6 separate regions of the Homo sapiens genome follow, and all the other regions are reported to be linked to region 5. Evidence: microRNA targets listed by miRTarBase, many of them from high-throughput screens and not tested one by one. Region 5 holds a microRNA gene; each other region holds the end of a gene's coding sequence.

What was found. The annotated mature microRNA hsa-miR-10b-5p reads UACCCUGUAGAACCGAAUUUGUG and lies in region 5 at 2,352-2,374, shown strand. An mRNA with a match to its seed (bases 2 to 7 or 8) in the 3' UTR can be bound and repressed. Matches are read on the target gene's strand: a 7mer-m8 pairs with bases 2 to 8, a 7mer-A1 pairs with bases 2 to 7 and ends in A, and an 8mer does both.
Region 1: miRTarBase lists GLB1L3 as a target of hsa-miR-10b-5p. The part of its 3' UTR that is shown has no 7-base or 8-base seed match.
Region 2: the mRNA of ANKRD33B is a reported target of hsa-miR-10b-5p. Seed matches in the 3' UTR shown: 7mer-A1 at 1,334-1,340.
Region 3: miRTarBase lists USP6 as a target of hsa-miR-10b-5p. The part of its 3' UTR that is shown has no 7-base or 8-base seed match.
Region 4: the mRNA of CCDC8 is a reported target of hsa-miR-10b-5p. Seed matches in the 3' UTR shown: 7mer-m8 at 2,372-2,378.
Region 6: the mRNA of IPCEF1 is a reported target of hsa-miR-10b-5p. The part of its 3' UTR that is shown has no 7-base or 8-base seed match.

What each region holds. Positions count from the first base shown.
Region 1 is chr11:134,318,121-134,321,949 of GRCh38, reverse strand. GLB1L3 (galactosidase beta 1 like 3) reads right to left here. Exons shown (of 20, transcript NM_001080407.3): 19 at 3,203-3,319; 20 at 2,386-3,073. The coding sequence ends at 3,008. Among named protein-coding and RNA genes, the nearest start is that of GLB1L2, 12 kb to the left of the region's middle.
Region 2 is chr5:10,649,140-10,652,856 of GRCh38, reverse strand. It overlaps ANKRD33B (ankyrin repeat domain 33B), which reads right to left. Exons shown (of 4, transcript NM_001164440.2): 4 at 1-3,591. The coding sequence ends at 2,744. Among named protein-coding and RNA genes, the nearest start is that of ANKRD33B, 87 kb to the right of the region's middle.
Region 3 is chr17:5,172,181-5,176,009 of GRCh38, reverse strand. It overlaps USP6 (ubiquitin specific peptidase 6), which reads right to left. Exons shown (of 38, transcript NM_001304284.2): 38 at 1,019-3,205. The coding sequence ends at 3,032. It also overlaps a transcript of ZNF594 not described here. Among named protein-coding and RNA genes, the nearest start is that of ZNF594, 18 kb to the left of the region's middle.
Region 4 is chr19:46,408,641-46,411,640 of GRCh38, forward strand. CCDC8 (coiled-coil domain containing 8 subunit of 3M complex) reads right to left here. Exons shown (of 1, transcript NM_032040.5): 1 at 1,689-3,000. The coding sequence ends at 2,554. Among named protein-coding and RNA genes, the nearest start is that of CCDC8, 3.4 kb to the right of the region's middle. RefSeq lists an enhancer at 40-564.
Region 5 is chr2:176,147,978-176,151,806 of GRCh38, forward strand. It overlaps MIR10B (microRNA 10b), which reads left to right and starts at 2,326; the gene lies at 2,326-2,435. HOXD4 (homeobox D4) reads left to right here and starts at 3,573. Exons shown (of 2, transcript NM_014621.3): 1 at 3,573-3,829. The coding sequence starts at 3,657. RefSeq lists enhancers at 220-763, 3,292-3,829.
Region 6 is chr6:154,156,704-154,160,532 of GRCh38, reverse strand. IPCEF1 (interaction protein for cytohesin exchange factors 1) reads left to right here. Exons shown (of 12, transcript NM_001130700.2): 12 at 493-3,829. The coding sequence ends at 705. It also overlaps a transcript of OPRM1 not described here. Among named protein-coding and RNA genes, the nearest start is that of OPRM1, 120 kb to the right of the region's middle.

The sequences.
Region 1 (3,829 bases), not on the chromosome of region 5:
AATATGTGTTTCTACTTGTACTTTTTTTTTTATTATACTTTAAGTTCTAGGGTACATGTGCACAACGTGCAGGTTTGTTACATATGTATACATGTGCCATGTTGGTGTGCGGCACCCATTAACTCCTCATTTACATTAGGTGTATGTCCTAATGCTATCCCTCCCAACTCCCCCCACCCCATGACAGGCCCCAGTGTGTGATGTTCCCCTTCCTGTGTCCATGTGTTCTCATTGTTCAATTCCCACCTATGAGTGAGAACATGCAGGGTCTGGTTTTCTGTCCTTGCGATAGTTTGCTGAGAATGATGGTTTCCAGCTTCATCCATGTCCCTACAAAGGACATGAACTCCTCCTTTTTTATGGCTGCATAGTATTCCATGGAGTATATGTGCCATATTTTCTTAATCCAGTCTATCATTGATAGACATTTGGGTTGGTTCCAAGTCTTTGCTACTGTGAATAGTGCCACAATAAACATACGTGTGCATGTGTCTTTATAGCAGCATGATTTATACTTGTACTTATTTTTCTACTTCTTTATCTTCTACTATCTTTTGTCTTTTATTGGTTAGAGGATTTTGTTTGTTTGTTTTTTCTTACTCTATTTATCCTCCTAATTTTTTTAGAAAGTTAAAAGCTCTATGTATATTCTTTAAACATTAAGCTTAGTTTATTAACTAGGAATATTCAACAAAGTCTAAAGTTAATATCTGAGAATTACAGAAATCTTAGATCACTTTTTGGCCATCACATCCCTCTCGCTTTACACAGTGTTTTTGCCTGGTCTTAGAGTTTTATGCTGATGCTACCTCAAGTTAGACATTGGCTCTATTTCTATGGAGTTAACGTTTGTCCATATTCACTCTCACATATGTCAGCATCCTTCTTGGATTCCACGTTCTTTCTTAAAAGTCAGACTTTCCATCTGCTCGTGGCATATCTTTTAGAAATTTCTTCTCAACTGTGGTTCCCTGAGAGCGTGAAGATGTAATGCCCCAAGACATCCACAGTATGTAATGAGTTAACGTCTCTAATATGCATCCAGATGATATAATGAGAAACTAGTCACTGAAGACACTTTCTGCAGTGTTTAATTCTCTTATGGGACATTGAGAAAGGCCGCTACAGAACATCATTTAGTGGGGATCTTTTGATGATAACTCTCTTGGTTTTTGTTTGTCAGAAAGTTCTATATTTTGTTTTTTTTTTTTGTTTTTCTTGTAAAATAGTTTTGCTGGGTAAAGAATTCTAAGTTGTGAGCTCTTTTTCTCTAAGTGCACTGAAAGCATTATATCTTCTGAATAGCATTTTTGCATTCATATTTGGAAAAGACTGGCATACGTGTGGAACTAAGGTAGTAGCGAAAGAGGAGGTGCCAATCAGAGAGACATGATTTCAAATACCTCTTTGAACCTTGGTTTCTCATCTGTAAAATGGATATGTTGCATGGTTGTTGTTAAGTTTAGATGTTGCAGATGTTACACCTGAAATATAATATGTACTCAAGATCATTATGATTATTAGTTCTGCTTCCCTCCTTTACATTGCAGTTTCTATAGAGTTCATAGGTTTGAGGCTAGATCCCCAGAGAATAAAGTTTTATGTAGAATTGTGGAGGTATCTCACAGAAGTTTCCTCCATTGAAATAGTCATTCAGACTAGTGGGAGAGAAGATAATCTGACATCTTTATCTTCATTCCAATCCAAACAGAGGGTTCTCTTCCCTCTGGACACAAGATTACTTACTAAATTACTTGAAAGCCCTAGGCACTATATTTAACAGGGTGATAAGATTTGCTTATAGTGCATTGGTTTGAATTTAGGCCAAGTGCTGTGTTTTGTATATAAGAAAGTGCTTGGTTCCCAATGGTGCCATTTTTTTCAAATGGCTCCACTGGCTTTTCATAGTGGTTGGAATATTCATGTGTGTGTGGCTAATCTCACTAATGCCTACCCACTATCAGTAGTAGCCTTGACTATAGCCAGATAGACAGGGAGTAAGAAGACACAGAGAACCCTGCGCTAGCTTTGTTGTCACACGTGTCTGAAGCAAATGACCAAATTTCTGTTCCTTCTCTGATTAGATGTGACATGCAGGGTCACCTTGTAGACACATAGTTGAAGGGAAATGAAAGACATTGTTCATTGCCCTCTCCTTTCCCCTACTCCTACATACACACACACACATGCACGCGCGCGCGCACACACACACACACACACACACATACACAGAGAGAGAGAGAGAGAGAGAGAGAGAGGAGGGAGACCGTGAGTTTGCCCATTAGTACATGCAATACTCTCTCTGGCATGAGGAAATCAGTATCCTTACTCTTCCCCAGGCTTCAGACCTTTCCCTTCCCTTCAATTGAGTATGGGAGGCAGAAATGAAACTTGTTTTTATTTTATTCACATCTACTCAAAGGCACGTTTAATTAAAGAATAAGAGCCTGCTAAGGATTAAGCATTTAACTAGATAAATCAGTCATTAAAGATTTTGAAGACTTTTTAAAGCCTAAAAATAGGCATCATATAGATAGACTACAAAATACATAACAATTCCTCTGCTGTTTTGTTGTTGTTGTTATTTTCACATTTTTGCTATTGTAGGCAACACTGTGTTTGATAGTCTTAACATAAATCTTATTCCTCAAAAATGACTTATAGATGAACTCCAGCAACCCAAAAAATATGTTCACGGCCGGGAGTGGTGGCTCACGCCTGTAATCCCAGTACTTTGGGAGGCTGAGGAGAGCAGATCACAAGGTCAGGAGATTGGGACCATCCTGGCTAACTTGGTGAAACCCCATCTCTACTAAAAATACAAAAAATTAGCCAGGCGTGGTGGCGTGCACCTGTAGTCCCAGCTGCTGGGGAGGCTGAGGCAGGAGAATGGCGTGAACCCGAGAGGCTGAGCTTGCAGTGAGCAGAGATTGTGCCACTGCACTCCAGCCTGGGCGACAAAGTGAGACTCCATCTCAAAAAAAAAAAAAAATGTTCAGACACAGTTTTACAGCGTGGGCTTGTCTGTAGATTTGATATCTGAGCCACTCATCATCTTCTCAAACAAGATGACCTGAGAAGAAAAGAAAGGTTGACAGTGGGAAAGGTGAAGCCTATTTAGTACAGGTTGAAAAAGACACTGCAACTCACATTTTGATCTGAAAGTTTATGAGATCTCAAGGCAGAGACTGGAGTGACATACCTCATTGTCTTCTGGATGAAGCCAAACTCCAGGAAGGTACAGTGTTTTCTGAGGCCCAATATTCCAATATCGCCCAAGGTTACGTCCATTGATGAACACAAATCCATAATTCCAGTTCTGAAAGGAATGGTGGCTTGAGATTTGGAAATTGGTTCACATTAGCAAGGTAAAACCTAAGGCACTTGGAGAGTGAGAGCAAGATTGAGATACTTTATGGCACTCAAATGAAGGTGAGTTTAGAGTGGGATATGTTATAGAACTTCTACCTTGCTGTCTAGGAATGAAAGAGAAAAGCATAAATAGAACCAACCCTTTAATGGTAAGGCTGCTATTGTTCCTGTTATGTGATATATAATGTTATATATTTTAAAAAGCAGATCTTCTACTTCCAGAAATAAATATCAGGTAATAGTGATGAACACCACTGCTGACAGTGGCTATTAATATAAAAGCTGCACATTTTTAAAAATCTGCTTGCAATATAATGAAGAATTACAGGATCAAGATCTAGAAGAAGAAAATGGAGAGACAAGGAGACATCTAGGCAGTTTTTCCACTAGAGGCACCTGCTTATTCTGGGATATAACAAAACAGTCTAGCACATAAAATTGGAGTCTCTGAAATGCT
Region 2 (3,717 bases), not on the chromosome of region 5:
CAGGTATCTCTAGAGCTGTTTTGTGGACACCAGGAGCATCACTGGACAATCCCTGTGCTGGCCCCAGAGTATCCTGTGCACCTGGATGAGGCTGGAACACATCGGGGGCAGGGCCGCAACACGTCCACTCCAGAACAGCGTGGGACCTGGGGAAATTGCCAGTCATTTGCTGTCCCATCATTGCTGTTCCACGCATCCCTGACAACTCTGAGCATGGGTTGTGGTGAGGTAGCAGCTGGGCAGGACCAGAAATGTCCATTTTTGACATGGAGGCAGCAGACACCCAGGCTTGGGGTAGAAGTGAGGGCTCCATACCATTCCCAGTGACAGCTTCCCATGGTGGAAACAGGCAGGAATGTCTGGCAACCCACCAAGGGTCAGACGCCACGTCAGTCCGAGCAGAAGCTGCCTGACCCTGGCTGTTCCAATGACAATGAGACATTCTTGGGGAGGTGGAGCCCTCTGTGGGAGCTCAGAATGGGTGTCCTCTCGCAATCACTGTGTTAGAGCTGCGGTTCTCAATGCGGGCTGCAGTGCAGTTACCTGCGGAGCTTTAGGGCGCTCCCAGGGCTTGGCTCCCCGGACCAGGGCCTTGAGAACCTTCACAGCAGGGGTAGCCGGTGTTGAGAAGCGTGCCTGGGAGACCACATGGCACTGCCTGGCTGGGTCCTCGGTTGACAGAGGTGAGGGTGGGGCTCGTGGTGACTTGGTAATGCCGTGAATTATCTACATGTGGCAGGAAGGTGCCACATGCCAAAGGATTCAGGAAAGACAACCCCAAAGATAACCAGTGTCAGTTACAGTCTCCACCTCCTCGAAGAAGACATGGCCAATCCCAACTCCTTGGCCACGAGGGTGACCCACAGTCAACTAATATCTGCAGTTCTCAAAGAGGGTCCAGTCTCCTGTGGCATTCATCATGGTGCCCTTCTGGGATTAAGGAGGAACTCACTGCAATCTCATCTTAAACACTGTATCATCAACACACCAATCTCCCATTAGCCTGGGTGCAGCCTGCAGTCCTGTTCAATGGAGTATTTGGAGAGGCCAGTTTAAGATCCCTGGTTGCTCGATGCCTGCTGGTGCCAAGTGGAAGGGAGTATGGAGAAGCCTGCACCAGCCCTGCCTGCATCCTGAGACAGACACCATGTATCATGATGTATCTAGGGTTATTAGGGTCATAGTACAGAGCCTCCAAATAGGCCTGTGATCGTGCGTGTCCAAGTATTTCAATTAATACTGAAATAAAGTGCATATGTGACAGACACTCTACAACCCACATGGCCAGAGAGCCATTAGAACTAGAAACTCCAGCCTGAGTTTCCAGCTTTCATACCCTGCCCTGCCGAATTAGAATGCTGCAAATCTGATAATGATTACAAATACAAAATTATGCAGAAAACCCCCTTTGATAAATTCAAATTTGATCACTGAGAAAAGTGATCTCCATGTCACTTTGGAGATAAAAGTGTGGACATAAGACTCTCACCAAGAGCTTGTGGCCCAAGGCAAATCACACCCATGCCCTGCCCTGCCCAAGGCCCTGCATCTTGGAAATTCTAAGAGGTCGGCATAAGGATGAACTAAACACCAAGCGCAGTCCTCAAAGGAAAAATAAAAGAAATATCCACACAACGGACTCTTTGGAACTGAGCCTGGAGGAGGGGGCTGCCCAGTCTACTCCAGGAGAATTTGCCGAAAACAAGTCTGTTCCCCATTCCATTCTCTCACCTCTTCTAAAAATCACCTCCTCCCCATTCCTGTAATTTGCGTCATTCTGGGCTCCTGACTCTTGTTGCATCTTTTTGACATTTTAAGGATATCTGGATTCGAATTACTTAAGAGCACATATGGCTTAATTTTGTATTTCTGGTAATCATTTATTATTAAATTTGCCTCATTTTATCGAATGACAGTTTTTTTCTCATATCTATTTTTAATGTTAAAGATTTCGTATCCAGTTTACCTAAAACCCCTTGCTTAAAATGAGTTTAATTCTAGCAATAAATACATGTTTATCGCTCCATTGTTTTATAATTTGACAATATGTTTTTCCTCAATATATTACTATATGGATAAGAGTTTTAAAAAGATACAGTAACATCTGATCCTCTGTCTCACTTGATCATGTGGCTCAACGAGCCAATGCCTCCGTCAAATAGAAATATCCGGCAACACTTAATCTAATGACTAAGAACATCCAGTGTGCACCTACACCCACGATGAGGAGAAAAGACCAAACAGCCAAAAAGGGGAGAATCCCATGATGTCTGTGTGAACTCATACAGGTATCATGGATACTTATTGCTAGAAACAGTATCTTAAACAAAAGGTCTTCAGGCAAGTGTATTAAAACTGCCTTGGATATAAGGGGCCCTATCACTTGTAAAACGTTGCAAATTTGATAAATAATGATTAAAAATACAAAATTACGGAGAAAACGCCCTTTGATAAATTGATCTTTAAAAAAAATCTTAATTGAGGTTCTCTAAAGGGAGCCTTTTAGGCAACGTGCCCGCTAGGTGTACTGATTGCTAGGAGGGCTGGCGACAAGCGAATCCATGTGGCTCCCTCAGCCCTCTCTTGGAAGCAGCCTGGACAAACAGCCTGGAAATGCGCGCAGCCCCGTGGTCCATGGAGCGGAAGTGGTGCGATGCGCAACGGGGCCGCCTCCTTCTCCGCGCCCAGCCCTGCGGCCCCGCCCCGGCCCCAGCCCCGGCCCCAGCGCCAGGCACACGGGCCCTCACGTCCTCTTCTTCCAGGGCGCAGTGCGCCTCTCCTTCTGCGCCTCGGCCTGGCGCTTCTTTTCGGCCTCCTCTGCCTTCCTCTTCTCCTCCTTGGCCTCCTTGTACCGCCACTTGGGGATCTGCAGGTGGCCGCTGTCCTTGGTGCTGCCCTTCCGCGCCGGCCGCTCGGGCTGGAAGGTGGGCGCGGGCGCCTTGCTGACTCGGACCCGGGGCACCACCACACCGGGCCGCACGCTTCTCCGCCGCAGGCGCTGCAGGGGCAGGAGGCTGGCCTTCCGCGGGGCGGGCGCTGCGGGGCCCCGGGACCCCAGGGCGGGAGGGAGGCCGGCTCTCGGGGAGCCCTCCCGGGAGTCCGCGTCCTCCTGTCCGGTCCGCCCGCGCTGCCCCGCGCCCCCCACCTCATCCTCCTCCTGCGCCTGGGGGCCCCGTGCAGCCCGCGCCGCCAGGATCTCCTGCACCGCCAGCCGCCTCTTCCCCACGCTCGGAGGGCTCTCAGGGCACACGGTCTGGCACACGATGGCCACGGCGGGGCTGTAGAGGCTCGTGGTCATCCGGACCATGTGGTCCAGGACGCCCCCGTCCTCCGGGCCCCGCACGGAGCGCGGCGTCAGCACGGACAGCACGCAGTCTGTGAGCCTCTGCAGGCAGTTCTTGGAGCCCGCGGGCTTCCGCGCCGCTTCAGGGGGCGGCGGCAGCTCGGGCCGGTACTTCTCCCAGAACTGCTCCGGGCAGGGGCGCTCCAGCAGCCTCTGCATGAGACGGACGGCATCCACGCGGCCCGTGTAAGTGGCCCACTCCTGCGGCGACATCCCACGGCGGGGGTCCCTCGCGTGGACATCCGCCCCTGCAAAACGCAAAACACAAACAGAAGTGGGTGGCGGCAACAAGGACTCTTCCCTCCCAGGCAGAGCCTGGGGCAAAGGCAAAACTGCCCCCACCCCCCACCCCTGGCCCCAAGCCTCCTAACAGA
Region 3 (3,829 bases), not on the chromosome of region 5:
ACAAAACAAACAAAAAATCCCTCTTTGTGAAATAGGATTGAATATCGTTGGATTGAGCACTTACCAAGCAACTGTGCCAGGGTTTGTGTCCTTCATTTAATTCTTACAAGCCTGAGTGTTCCGTATTTTAACTTTATAGGTGAACAAATAGAAGCTGAGGGTGAAGGACCTACAGCTGTCACCTTCATCTCTTCTCAACACTGCCAGATGTCTCCTTGGATCTCCCAGACAGACAACAAGGGGCATCTCTGGTTTCTCGGTGCCCGCTAGAAACCTAGGGTCATTTCAAGGCATTATGCAAATGAGAAGCTTTCCTTCTCTTCACCTCATCTCCTGATCTGCACAAAAATGACTGTAGGACCCACTGTAGGTACCAATGTAGGCACCAATCCTCAGTTTACCACCTGCTCTCTACTTGCTTCCCTGCCATAACTTTCTAAAAGGGATGTGAGCCATGTTTAAAGTCACCTGGTCACTGGAGAGATCTTGTTCTACCCTCTACATCAGTGGTTGCCAACCTTTTTGGCACCAGGGATGGGTGTTGTGGAAGACAATTTTTCCACGGACTGGGGGGATGGGGGGAATGGTTTCAGGATAAAACTGTTCCACCTCAAATCATCAGGCATTAGATTCTCATAAGGAGCACACAACCTAGATTGCTAGCATGCGCAGTTCACAATAGGGTTCTTTCTCCTGTGAGAATGGCGTGCCGCTGCTGATCTAACAGGAGGCAGAGCTCAGGCGGTAATGGGAGCAAGGGGGAGCGGCTATAAATACAGCTCGCCACTCACCTCCTGCTGTGCAGCCCGGTTCCTAACAGGCCATGGACAGTACTGGTCTGTAGCCCAGGAGTTGGGGAATCCTGCTCTACAGAGTTTCCAACCTCAGAGATGAAGCATCCCCTCTGTATACAAGTCAGAAAGAAATTATTCAAGTAGGAGAATTAAAACAGGATCACAGAGAGGGAGGCTGAAGAATTTGACTTTCTGTGTTTACTTGTATGAGGAAAAACAGCACATAGAGGCAACCACAGTATTTAATTTGTTTGGATAATAGTTAACAGATAAACAGGTACACCCCATATACAATTACCAATACTTTTGATACAGTTCATATTTCAGTACATCAACACTATTTTATTTACACTCTATTTATGTACATTAACATCTTTCTAAAGTCAGTGCATTGTCAACAAGTTTTATACAGTAATTTACAAGGTGAATGTAGTTAATAGTTAATTTAATAAATTTTCCGCTAGTTCATGAATTAAAAAAATTAATTACAACCAGTATAACACAAATCACACAACATTAGTAGATTGTGCTACCTGTTTAAATAAAACATCTGTAAAGAAATTATTTAAAATCTTCCACTTTTTAATGGGACATGTCCAGGTAGGAATGGACAGATTTTATTTACTGAAAATCTTGAAACTATAAAGTGTGCATTTTGTCTGACTTTATTACATTAGACAATTTAGGCCACTCCTACCTACTTGCAATTATATTTTTTCTGAAAAGGATTTCAATTTAGGTAGCCATTTAAGATAACCTTTCCAAATGCTCTGAGAACTAGATATTAATAGTTACTGGCCTCAGATATCAGAACACAAATGCTTAGTTACATTGGTAATTACTACCTATGAGGAAGAAAGGGTAATGGAATCTGGCAATGAGAATCAACTTGCAGGGTCTAAATGAATAAACAAAGACCAAAAATAAGGTGAAACATTTCCTTCAAGTATATATTAAGAAACTACATGAAAAAAATTCTACCTCAAATAAATAATATTTATACTTTTGTTCCAATCTTAAATAATTAGAGGGAAAAAATGAAGTAAGCAAAGAAACATAACTTTCAATGACTACTGTAAAATTTAAAAAAAGACAAATATCAAAATAAAAAAACCAGTGGACATGCAAACAAAGCAAAACTAAAGTTGACTTCCTAAAACCACCAATTTCATTAAATATACTTATGAACTCCTAATGTCTGGGATGTGTTTTGTTTGTAATTTATAGCCCTTAGAGCCATCAAATACACACAAGCAAGTTCATTTGCATGTGTTCTCTCTTTTTTAAAGTGCAAAACAAACACAGAAAAGAATAACCACTAATTGTGAAACGTGATCTAGCTCCGATGCCGCTTACCTTCCCAGAAGCTCTTGTTGCAACATGTGCATGTGAAGATGGTGCAAATATTGGCAACTGCTCCCCTTCCCTCAGCATGGGCGGGGCCGGGGGTGCAGAATACATTTCTGAGGATACTTGAAGTAGCCTAAATGTAAGATGCCTCCACTGGGAGGGCCCTGGTAGCTGGATTTCCCAGGATGTTTTTCTTTCTACTGGGTCTCCCTCTGGTTGGAAGGCACATAGCTCTTAAGAGAGCCTCCCTTTCAGACTGACCACTCTATGCCCCTGCCACCAATGACTGGTTGTGTCTCAAACGTAAACACAATGGCAAAAACAAAAAGCAAGAAAAAGAAAGGGTATGGAAACAGTTTAAAAAATAAATTGAAAAATCCTTGTCCATGCCGTAAGAATCATTTGCACACCTTCATGATCTTGCTTTCTCCATCTTGTCAATATAATGGAATAAAACTTCAGGAAAAAGGAGGTAGCGTATCATGTCGTCCCTAGACAACATTATAATTGTTTGTTTTTTCCTCTGACTCCAAGGAAATCTTTAATATTTGTTATGATTATTGGTAAACTCTATACTCACTACATATTTGTTCATATCTGGACAAGCACAATTCAATTCTTATTTGGTCCCAGGTGGCTGGTGCCACACCTTTTGTTTACAGGCTAATGGTGGGATCTGCCTGAAAGTTCTCTATCAGACAGCTTGTATGAGACTTCAAAATACAATTGTTTCTACTCTTCAAGTTAACTATTTTAATTAGAATTTTTGTTCTAACAGGATAAAATAACTACATTTAGCTTGTCTTTCAGTGACACTTTTGCCAAGTATCAGCTACAAGGAGTCATCTCCCTCGCCACCAAGCTGTCTAGCAGCCAGAGTGGTAGCTTTACTGTAACATAGAGTACTTTTCGTAATCAGACTCAGAGTCTTCATCCGTACTGCTTGTGTCTGCCATCTTTTTGCCATCAATCTTTGGCAGAAATTGTGCGTAGTCTATCCCCTGCTGCTCATAGAAAAGAATGTAGGCAGAGTCGGTGTCAATTTCATCAGGGTGAAGTTCCTGAAAGGGCAAGAAAAACCTTTAACAAAAAGCCATCACTATTATGACTCTAAATCCTTGCCAGGAAAGGGAAGACCAACCCTCTGTAATTACTAACCTGATTGCTTCCAATAAGCTCACTAGTTTGGCTGTCTCACACCTGCCCCTTTAAAATGAGCCCCATTATTTCCAATGTTTGCTTTGGGGAAAATATTTTGACCATAGACAAGTCAAAACAGAATGACCTAAAACCCCATCAAATTCTAATTATTTATTTTGTATGTATTTATTTTTTTGAGATGGAGTCTCGCTCTGTCACCAGGCTGGTGTGCACTGGTGCAATCTCAGCTCACTGCAACCTCTGCCTCCCGGGTTCAAGCGATTCTCCTGCCTCAGCCTCCCGAGCAGCTGGGACTACAGGCATGTGCCACCACATCTGGCTAATTTTTTGTAGTTTTAGTAGAGATGGGGTTTCACCATATTAGCCAGGATGGCCTCTATCTCCTGACCTCATGATCCGCCCACCTTGGCCTCCCAAAGTGCTGGGATTATAGGCATGAGCCACCGCGCTCGGCCCAACCCCATCAAATTCTAACAGTCTAGAAGATAGGAGCTTTTTGCATTAACTAACTACTTTTTTTTTTT
Region 4 (3,000 bases), not on the chromosome of region 5:
GCCTGTCTTCCTCCGCGCACCTGCAAAGCCTCCCCTCCAGGTGAGGTCCACAGCTTGTATTTCTTCCAAACCTCCCAGGGCCTCGTTCTTGCTGTGAGCCGTGGACTACACGGCCAAGTATCCACCAGCATGCACAAAGCGGCTCTAGCAAGGCCATGCGGCGCGCCAGGCAGCAAGCAGCACCAGCAGTAACCACTCCACTCAGAAAAGAGCAGGGGTGGGGCGCGGTGGCTCACTCCCATAGTCCCAGAGCTGAGGCCAGAGGATCGCTTGATCCCAAGAGTGCAAGTGAGCCGTGATTGCAACACCACACTCCAGCCTGGGTGACAGAGCCAGACCCTGTCTTGAAAGAAAGAAAAGAGTAAAGAAAAGAGAGAAAGAGAAAGGAAAGAAAGCAAGAGAGAGAGAGAAAGAGAGAGGGAGGGAGGGAGGAAGAAAGAAAGAGGGAAGGAAGGAAGGAAGGAAAGGAGGGAGGGTGGGAGGGGGAAGGGGAGGGAGAGGGAGAGGGGAGGGAGAGAGGGAGAGGGGAGGGGAGTGGAGGGAGAGAGGGAGAGGGGAGGGGAGTGGAGGGAGAGAGGGAGAGGGGAGGGGAGGGAGGGAAGGGGAGGGGAGGGAGGGAAGGAGGGAGGAGGGTGGAAGAGAGAAAAACAAAAGGAGGGTGGTGGGATAGAATTCTTTACTTTCCTGAGGAAAAAAATAAGAAACTTAGGCCAGGCCTGCAACCAGTTAGGAAGACAGACTGGCCTTTGGACCTCCACGAACTCTCTTTTCTCCTGCCCTCAGCAAGGCTAGAGTGTGGTCATTTGCTGTTTTTCACTGCTAGGGGTTGTGGGGACACAAGGCAATACAGGCCCCCAGCTTCCTCCTAACCTCCACAGGGCTTTAGCAACCCAGTTTCTTCCCAATTATAGGAAGCAGTTGGCCGCGTGCAGTGGCTCATGCCTGTAATCCCAGCACTTTGGGAAGCAGAGGTGGGCAGATCAGCTGAGGTTAGGAGTTCAAGACAAGCTTGGCCAATATGGTGAAACCTCATCTCTACTAAAAATACAAAAATTAGCCAGGTGTGGTGGCACACACCTGTAGTCCCAGCTATTCGGGAGGCTGAGGGAGGAGAATCGCTTGAACCAGGGAGGCGGAGATGGCAGTGAGCCGAGATCGTGCCACTGCACTCCAGCCTGGGAGACAGAGAGTGAGATTCCATCTCCAAAAAGAAAAAAAAAAATGCAGCAGCAATTAATGCACAATACACACAGCCTCTTTTTTTTTTTTTTTTTTTTTTTTTTTTTGAGACAGAGTCTCACTGTGTCACTAGGCTGGAGTGCAATGGCACAATCTCGGCTCACTGCAACCTCCACCTCCTGGGTTCAAGAGATTCTCTTGCCTCAGCCTCCAGAGTAGCTGGGACTACAGGCGTGCGCCACAAGGCCAGTCTAATTTTTGTATTTTTATTAGAGACGGGGTTTCACCACGTTGGCCAGGATGGTCTCGATCTCTTGACCTCGTGATCCACCCGCCTTGGCCTCCCTAAGTGCTGGGATTACAGGCGTGAGCCACCATGCCCGGCCAACCACAGCCCCTCTTTTGGGCCTTTTCCTATTGCAATGATTTTTCAATGTGTCCAGTGGCCGAGTTGCCCAGATGTCCGTGGAGCTTGATGCAAACAGAATTCAGAGCCACACAGGCACCGCTAGCAAATCCACACCTCTGGTGCCGAGGGCCCCAGAATCTGTGTTTTGAATGCATTTTTCAGACGCTTTTACTGTACCTTATAACCAAGATCGGGTGAGGTGTGCAAACCAAGGGCCCTGTCCCCTCCAAACCAGCAGAGCCCGGGGCATGAGGATGGCAAGCGAAGTGACAACATAAACACAGGTGTCTCCATCATCAAGGATGGGAGTGGAACGGACAGCAAGGGCCAGGTCACCCCCAGAGCATTCGTCAGTTGTCAAGTCCAAAGCTAAGAAATCAGTTCATAAATGTTTTTTGATTTGCATGTTGGCTCAACTCTTTTTAAGTCCAAGGAGGCAGTCCACATTAAGTGTGCAGGCAAAAAAGAGATGGAAAAAGGAGTCAGTTTCTCCCCTGCCCTCCCTCTCTCCCTTTATCAAGCTGAGCACCTTGAGTTGCATTTGAGGAAATGAAAACTATAGGTGACGCAACCCCATTGTGTCGAATTCTTTCTTTACATTTTTTGGGTTGCTACAAGGAATCAGTATTTTTTTTTTTTAATCAGATGGTGTGTGTGGTGGCTCACATCTGTAATCCCAGCATTTTGGGAGGCCGAGGCAGGAGGATCACTTGAGGCCAGAAGTTTGAGGCTGCAGTGAGTTATGATCATGCCACTGCACTCCAGCCTGGGCAACAGAGTGAGACCCTGTCTCTAAAAAATTTAAAAAAAAATCAAAGCATGAACAAAACTTTAACAAGAGAATAAAGAGGGTTGTTAGGTGGAGACGTGGCCAGCACTCCACCTCCACTTTGAAGTTCAGAGGCAGAGCATCTCTCCCTCCCACACTTGGAGGGAGGGCCCGTGGGCTGTCTCTAGCCCTCACCTCACAGCTGGTCTTCTTGCTCTCCCTGCTCAGCTTCTGCTCTGGCCTCGGCCCTCAGCACCCTGAGGTTCCTGGCCTCTCCTGCCCTGGGGACTCTCTTGGGCAGGGTTGGCAACCGGGGAGTGTGCCAGAAGGCTCTCCGGCGCTTGCAAAACCACGAAAAGCGTCCAGGGGTCTGGAACCTCACTGTCTTGACCTGTTTCCGGGCCCTGGCTCCTGGAGCTGTTCCTGTGGTCCCTTGGGCAGCTGAGACTTCAGCTTCCTGGATACCTGGGGCCCCTGCCCTCTGATTATGTGCAGCCTCTGCCCTCTGGCCAGCCCGGGCCTGTGCCCTCTGATTATCTGCACCCTGGACAGCTGGGGCCCTTTCCCTCTGGTCATGTACGGCCTCTTCCCTTTGATTATCTGTAACCTCTGACCCCTGGTCAGCTGGGGCCTCCGCCCTCTG
Region 5 (3,829 bases):
CGCCAAGGCGCTCACTTCTGTTAAGAGCTTGCTAATTAGCAGCCTGTCTTATTAGCGGCTTCAAACCAACGCAGTAAACACCAAGGCAATGCGGTCCCCTCCGCAGCCCAACCCTTCTTAACCTGGTCTAGCCTGGCCAACCTTCTGTTTTTAAAAAAATTCACTGAAAACAAAAACTCAATCCTCTGTGGCCGTGGGTGTGTTGAGTTGCCCGCTTCTGAGCTTTATGTGGACATTCCTTCCCCGCCCCTCCCCCGATCTGTTTGCAGCGGTGTGGGCCCTGGGCTTGGGACACTGGCTGAGCGAGGAGGGATACGGACCTTCTTTTCACCTCTGCTTCTCTGTAACTGCAGTTGGAGAATTTCCGCCCCAGAGGCGCTGGTGCTGCAAGGAGGCATAGGAGGGTGGAGTGGGGTGGATGCGGTGGGGTGGGGCCAGAGACTCGTGGGATCCTTGGCTTGGATGTTTGGATCTTTCTGAGTTGCCTGTGCCGCGAAAGACAGGTACATTTCTGATTAGGCCTGTGAAGCCTCCTGGAGGACCATCTCATTAAGACGATGGTATTGGAGGGAGAGTCACAGAAAGAACTGTGGCCCCTCCCTCACTGCAAAACGGAAGTGATTTTATTTTAATGGGAGTTGGAATATGTGAGGGCTGCAGGAACCAGTCTCCCTCCTTCTTGGTTGGAAAAGCTGGGGCTGGCCTCAGAGACAGGTTTTTTGGCCCCGCTGGGCTGGGCAGTCTAGTCGACCCTTTGTAGACTGTGCACACCCCTAGAAGAGCAACTACCCCTATACACCAGGCTGGCTCAAGTGAAAGGGGCTCTGGGCTCCAGTCTGGAAAATCTGGTGTCCTGGGGACCTCTGGTCTTGCTTCTCTCCTCCCCTGCACTGGCTCTGGGTGCTTATCTCTGCAGAAGCTTCTCGCTAGCAAACCCACATTCAGCGCCCTGTAGCTGAACACAGCACAAAAAGCCCTAGAGATCAAAAGCATTAGTATGGGCAGTTGAGCGGGAGGTGAATATTTAACGCTTTTGTTCATCAATAACTCGTTGGCTTTGACCTGTCTGAACAAGTCGAGCAATAAGGTGAAATGCAGGTCACAGCGTCTAACAAATATGAAAATGTGTATATTCACCCCGGTCTCCAGCCGGCTCAGCAGGCTCCCCCAATTTGTCTGGATAGAGCCTAGGCCCAGTGTCCCAGGAAGGTGGATACTTGGGAGTCTTTGGCATTCAGGGAAATTGGGGGGACTCTCCTGGGATAAACAGATTCTGCAGCCTCATAGCCCTTGTTAGAACTGGCGCCCCCAAAATCCCTACGAAACAGGTAAAGTGGTGGAAGCAAAGGATGGGGGGATGAGCAAAGTGCCAGGCTTGGAGGGGGAGTATCCCTGCCCCACCCCACCAGGCCCAGGCCCAGGCTTGAAACTAAATTTTGAATTATGTGGGAGGTAGGAAGGGCAATCAAGACAGTTAAAAAAAAATCTAACACCTTCAGCCTACAGTTAGGCACCCAAAAGCCCCACTCGAGCCAGGGCATCCCTGTGCCCCTGAAATCCATCGAGGCTCTGAGTGAGTCTGCGCTCTCCATGCCCTGAACTGAGGGACAAGCACTGCACAGTGCCGAGGCGCTGGGGCGGGTGAAATTTGTGAACTTTTGTACTCTTGTGTGCTGCTGTCGGCAAAGCAAAAATAATGAAAGTTTGTGATATGTTTGTAAATGATTTCGAATGACCCCTCGCCCTGCCCTTCACCATTAGCGCGCCGGCCTCAGCCCAAGGCGGCTCGGTGCCTGTGAGCAGCGCCTGCCTCGGGGTCTGCAGCAGCAGCGGAACGGAGAGGCCAGCCCGGATCAGGGCCCATGAAGGTAAATGCGCGACTTCTTGGAGAAGTAGCTTTGGCAGACAACCTGGCTTGGTCGGGCAGTAGGAAAAGGAGTAGACACAGGATATTCCCCTCTCGCTTCTTTTTCTTCTGCCGCTGAGGGCATTTGTTCCTTTCTGGAAAATACCACTTGGTAAGGAGGAGGGTTATTTGGATCCTGGTGGGGGAGGGTGGTTAATAAAGCCGCCATCCTTGGGATGGATTATTTTTCTTTCTTTCTTTCTTTTTTTCTTTCTTAAGAAGAATATTCTGGTTGTTCGCCTGCTTGGTAACCCTGACCCTGGCAGAAGAATGAGGGAACTCATTGCTTCAAATTGTCGCCAAGCCCATTAGGCTACCTGAACTGTCTCAGAAAGTGCGGGTGGCTGCGTCGAACGGTGGTGGCTCAGAGGAAGAGATTGGGGCCGGCAGCGACCTAGGTACCTCACTCTGGGTGGGACCCAGAGGTTGTAACGTTGTCTATATATACCCTGTAGAACCGAATTTGTGTGGTATCCGTATAGTCACAGATTCGATTCTAGGGGAATATATGGTCGATGCAAAAACTTCACGTTTCTTCGGAATAGCCAGAGACCAAAGTGCGACATGGAGACTAGAAGCAGCCGGCGCTGGTCAGCCGCCTCGTTCTGTTTTATTACCTTGGACTCCAGGAGGATCAGCTGCGCCTGGTGACATAGAGCAGCTTTTCCTCTCCAGAAGCTCCTCACCTTTAAACAGAGTATCCTCTGGGTGCTGAAAAGAAAGAAAGACAGAAAGAGAGAAAGAGAGAGAGAGAGAGAAAGAGAGAATGCAAGCCTAATTGGTTGCATGGATGCAGGGCCAAAGGGCTAGGTTTTGGGGTACTAGGGAGTGAGGTACAAGGCCAGCTTGCCCAGTCCCAGCTCTGCCCTCCAGGAACATGAGGTGCAAAGGTACCCAAATGGGGGCTTGCTTGTATTTGGGGCCTGTGGGAAGAAAGCAAGCTTCAAAGAAGCCCAGTGGGGAGCTCTAGGGTGCATTTTGACAAGGTGGAGGTGCCCTTGCCACCATCCCAGCCCACCCCCAGCTACATGGGCAAGGGCAGCGAGGGCCCCCTGCTATTTTGGCAGGGCCCAGCTTTGGCTGGGAACCCCCGGGCCTGGGCACTGGTAGAAAGCATGGCGGTTACTCATTGCCTAATTTGATTCAAGCTGGCCAGATTCTGGTAACTTTTGGGTGACCCTGATGAAGACAAAGCCAGGACGGCGGCCTTTGTATGGCAGAATCCCTGCTCCCGCCGGCTGCAGGCAGGGCGGGCAGGCAGGAACCCTCCTCGCCTGGGGCACTCTGCCCAACTCAGAGGCGAGTTCACCCACCCACCTTTCATTGCTCTGTACCCCAATAGGAGGATTCATTCTCCCTTGAGCTGTGCCTACTTGGTGTCGGGGGGCGGGGGTTGCATTCAGCTGGGGGTGAGTGGAAGGGCCACGGAAGGTTGGCAAAATCAGTGGCAGACAAAAGCTGGGATTACCTGAGGGGAATGGGGTGCTGGGGACTGGAACTACATTAATATCTGGCAGGGGCTCTCAAATGTGCCATAGCAAGCTACTTGATTACACGTATGTTATTTAGTTAAATTTGTGAAAATTATGAGATGCTCACCAACCCGGTGATAAACTTGCTCCCTCGCCATTGGCTGGCCTGGTCACATGGCTGCCCAACTTTATTCAGTTGACAGCAAGTAGGAGGGCCCTATGGAAGGAGAAAAAAAGACAACACGAGAAAAATTAGTATTTTCTACCTTCTGAAATTAATGGTCATGAGTTCGTATATGGTGAACTCCAAGTATGTGGACCCCAAGTTCCCTCCGTGCGAGGAGTATTTGCAGGGCGGCTACCTAGGCGAGCAGGGCGCCGACTACTACGGCGGCGGCGCGCAGGGCGCAGACTTCCAGCCCCCGGGGCTCTACCCACGGCCCGACTTCGG
Region 6 (3,829 bases), not on the chromosome of region 5:
ATTCTGTATTAAATAAATGTGATTTATTAAAAATAAAGATAATTTAATAAAATCTTAAAAGACATATTTTATGTTGCCATATGTCCTAGGTAAAGTGTTACGTTCCAATTTTACTTAGTGAAGTTTGGATTGTCAATAAAATGCTAATACCTACAATGGTAAGTTTTAGGAGGCATGATTCCCACACCAAGGTAGAATTGTTACTGTGGTGTGGAATAATGGATTGATCAGGGAAAGGCAACATAGAAGATCTTTGCTATATGTCTAGCTCTTCCACTAACTCTTGGGTAGGATACTTCACTTCTTTGCGGCTAGCGTATGCAAACAAATGTCGTATTTCTTAAGCTTAATGCTGGAATTAGAACATTAACGTGCAAAAATGCTTTGGTAATTTTATGTATATGTGTACTTGTAAAAGAGTTGGTAAAGATGGTTTATGTAAATTAAGACACTCTCAACATACCCCCTTCCCCTTTTTTTCTACTCACACAGTGTAAAGAACATGATCTGGCCATGATTAACCAGTTGCTGGATGACCCGAAGCTGACAGCCAGGAAATACAGAGAGTGGAAAGTCATGAACACCCTGCTGATCCAGGACATCTATCAGCAGCAGCGGGCTTCGCCTGCCCCTGATGACACTGATGACACCCCCCAGGAACTCAAGAAATCACCTTCTTCTCCCTCTGTTGAAAATTCCATTTGAGACAAAGTCAGGGTTTTCTCCTCTTATATTTTATCACAAGCAACTCTTCAAGATGTTGCAAAAGCTTACATTTTTCCTTAAAAGGAAAACTGAAACCCAGTCCTTCAAGCATCAGCTTCCCATCTAAAGATGCACGTTAGATGAAGATAATCACCGAATACACCAGGGCTCCTCATTTCAGTCGTAACGCATCCATTGAGATTGGAATGATTGAGTTCAGTTGAAAGGCGTTTTTTGTGTTCCTACTGGGAGCTCACGGTGATGTGGGGCTCTAGGGGGGATGTGAGAAATGTCTCTTCTGTTCATTGCTCTCCAGAGAATGCTATGGACAAGAATCAAATTTTACCAGGAGTAATTGCCCATGGAAACATTCTGTTTTTCAAAAGAAGAATGTACATATTCCACTTGACTGGGAAGCTGTGTGGCCCAAATCACTGTTTGAGTGGAGGAATGTTTTCTAGAGCAGTGACTGGAAGGACAAACGTGGTGTTGCAGAACAAAAATTCCTTGCCTTTGGTATGGAATGGTGGTGCCTTTTCCATGTGATGAGAAATGCTTCATAGACAGTGGCATGTGGGAGAGCTGAAGGAGGAGGCGTGTTCCATATTCCACTCATTCAAAGGACAGCTTGGTGTTTTCACACTTTATGCAGGTTAGGGGATCTGATTAATGTTTCCTTTCCTTACAACAGCTAGAGAAAACATCTCATCACAATTGGAGACCTCTACTTCCTTTGAGCTTTCCTACTCAATGGTAGGAGATAGGAATATGTTCCGCAAAGAATGTCTACTGCTCTTGTCCTTGGCTGTGATCCCTATACATAGTGTGAATTTATATCCAGGTTTCCCAGGATCAATATTGACAAGACGACTTTGGCATCTGAATTGTTTTAATATCTTTACTCAAAAAAACAAAAAAACAAAAACCCATGGAAGCAACAAAAGAGTTAAACATGAGGGATTTATTTTTGTATGTTTATATGTCACTTGTGTGCTATGTGAATAGCTATGTTTGTTATTTAAATATATTTATAGAAGTTCAAATTACTAGTGTTTAAAAGATGATATACTATTATATATTGTGCTTAGTATATATTTGATGAGTCTATACTTTTTGCTTGAGAAAAATAGAAATACTATTGATTCACTGGTGTTATGATGTTGCACTGTGTCTGAGGAATGCTCAGGAAATCTTGTGGGAAAAAAATGGGGCATGCATTCATAATTTTTCATTTTCTTCCCCACCCCAACCCCCATGAGCTCTTAAATTTAGATTTCTATCTCTTGTAAGTCACTCTTTTAACCAGCAAAGGACTTTCATCTTAGATTATCCTTTCTATTAAATAAACTTTAAGCTTTGTGCCATTTATGCCTGCAAACCTTAGACCAAAGGCAACACAACTAATGTCATCTTTTCATTAAAGACTAATAGAAATTTAGAAATCATTGTGTTAAAGAGAGCTATAGAGAAACAATATGAAAGTCTTCCCTTACTAATCACCATGAATATTTCTCACCATAGGAATAACCACAACCCACCAAGTACCCATGTTGGCCCTGCCTACCCGTAACAAATTGTTCACACAACCTATTTTGTTTTATAGCTTCAAAGTGTGGCTTGACATTCAAATGGAAGGAACCACCTGAATTATATCTGCAAACAAAATGGAAATAGTTGTTGAATAGTTCCCCAAGCTTTACTAAGAAGCCTTAATACTCTGTAAACAAACAAACAAACAAAAAACAACCTTAGCATTAAGAAATAAAAACAAAAAACAAGAAGCAAGTTGTACTGCTAGAAACTTCTCTAAGATAAGAGGCCAGGCCAGTCAGTTTGGCCCAGCAAACATGTGGGTACTTCTCCACCTAGGGAAGCCACTGAAGATGAGTTTGACCTGTGGTGACCTGACAGAGAGAACATTCAGATCCTCAGATTGCACCCTGATGCCCTGGTTTAGGAAAGCAGTGCTTTAACCTTTTGCCCCTGGAAATTACTGATTCTTTCTGTGATTAGCAGATACCAGAAGGGAAATTATTTAGGATTGGCAATGTAAAGAGTATTGAAGGAACAACAAATAACAATAGCAGAAATAACAGTGTGACATAAAGTGCCCTTCCACCTATTTTTCTTTGGTTTGCAACACCAGCCTGTAGACTTCCAGTTTTTCTTAAATTGAAGAGCTCCAGACACTTTTGAGCAGGGTTTGTGAATAGCTTTGAATGCTTTCCTTTGGCTTTTCGTGAAGACATATTTCCCCAGCCTTTCAACTGTAAACTCCTTTAGTACCATTGAAACTTAAGGCAAAAAAGATCCCTGGGATTACTTAGCCAAGGCTTAAATTTATTTTTCAAAGTCAAGAACATTAGCCTAGAAGTTTTTGCTTTGCTAGTTAAAGCTTACTTTGCAGAGCTTCCCAAAGTGAAAGGGAAACTGAACTTCACAATTTTGCACCTGGCTTTCTGGAGCCCCATTGCCTGCTCATTCGTGTTTTTCCCCCTGTAAATTATTTTGCTTTTGACCAGGTTGTGCTAGAAAGTAGGGCTGCTTCTGTGAGTTCTCAGCCTAGGCTGTGGCCACTAAGACGTGGGTGGGGGGATAGACAGGAGTGAGAGGGAGAGTGGGTGACACTTTCCGTGACACTTAATGTAGGAAGACATGGGCTTCTCTCTCTTGGCCTCAAGCCACTTTTCTGGTCCAAAGAATATTGGGAAAACTGGATTACTTTCAGTATATTTCTTGAGACCGGGTCATCTCTGAAATGCATTTGGGGTAGTTTCCTGGGGTCCAAGGGCCAATTCCTATACCCAGTCCTGCAGTGTCTGTGAGCTGTGGAATGAGAGAGAAAACCATGGCTGCTCAGGAAGGAAGTGGAGAATCTCTCAGCACACGTAGATCCAAATCTGTGGCACCTGCTAAAGATTAGGATTTGGAGAGGACTCCTCTTTGGGGTTGTGAAGAGGACCTTTTCCCTCTGTTGTTAGCCTGTAGATCCAGAACGGAGCCTGATGTGATGCCTTCACTGGTTGATATATTGCAAATAGACACTCTGAGCCCTGCATTGCAAGGGCGTCTTTTGCTTTAAAGAATTCTTAGTTTTGCCACAACAGCTCAAATCTCAGAATAG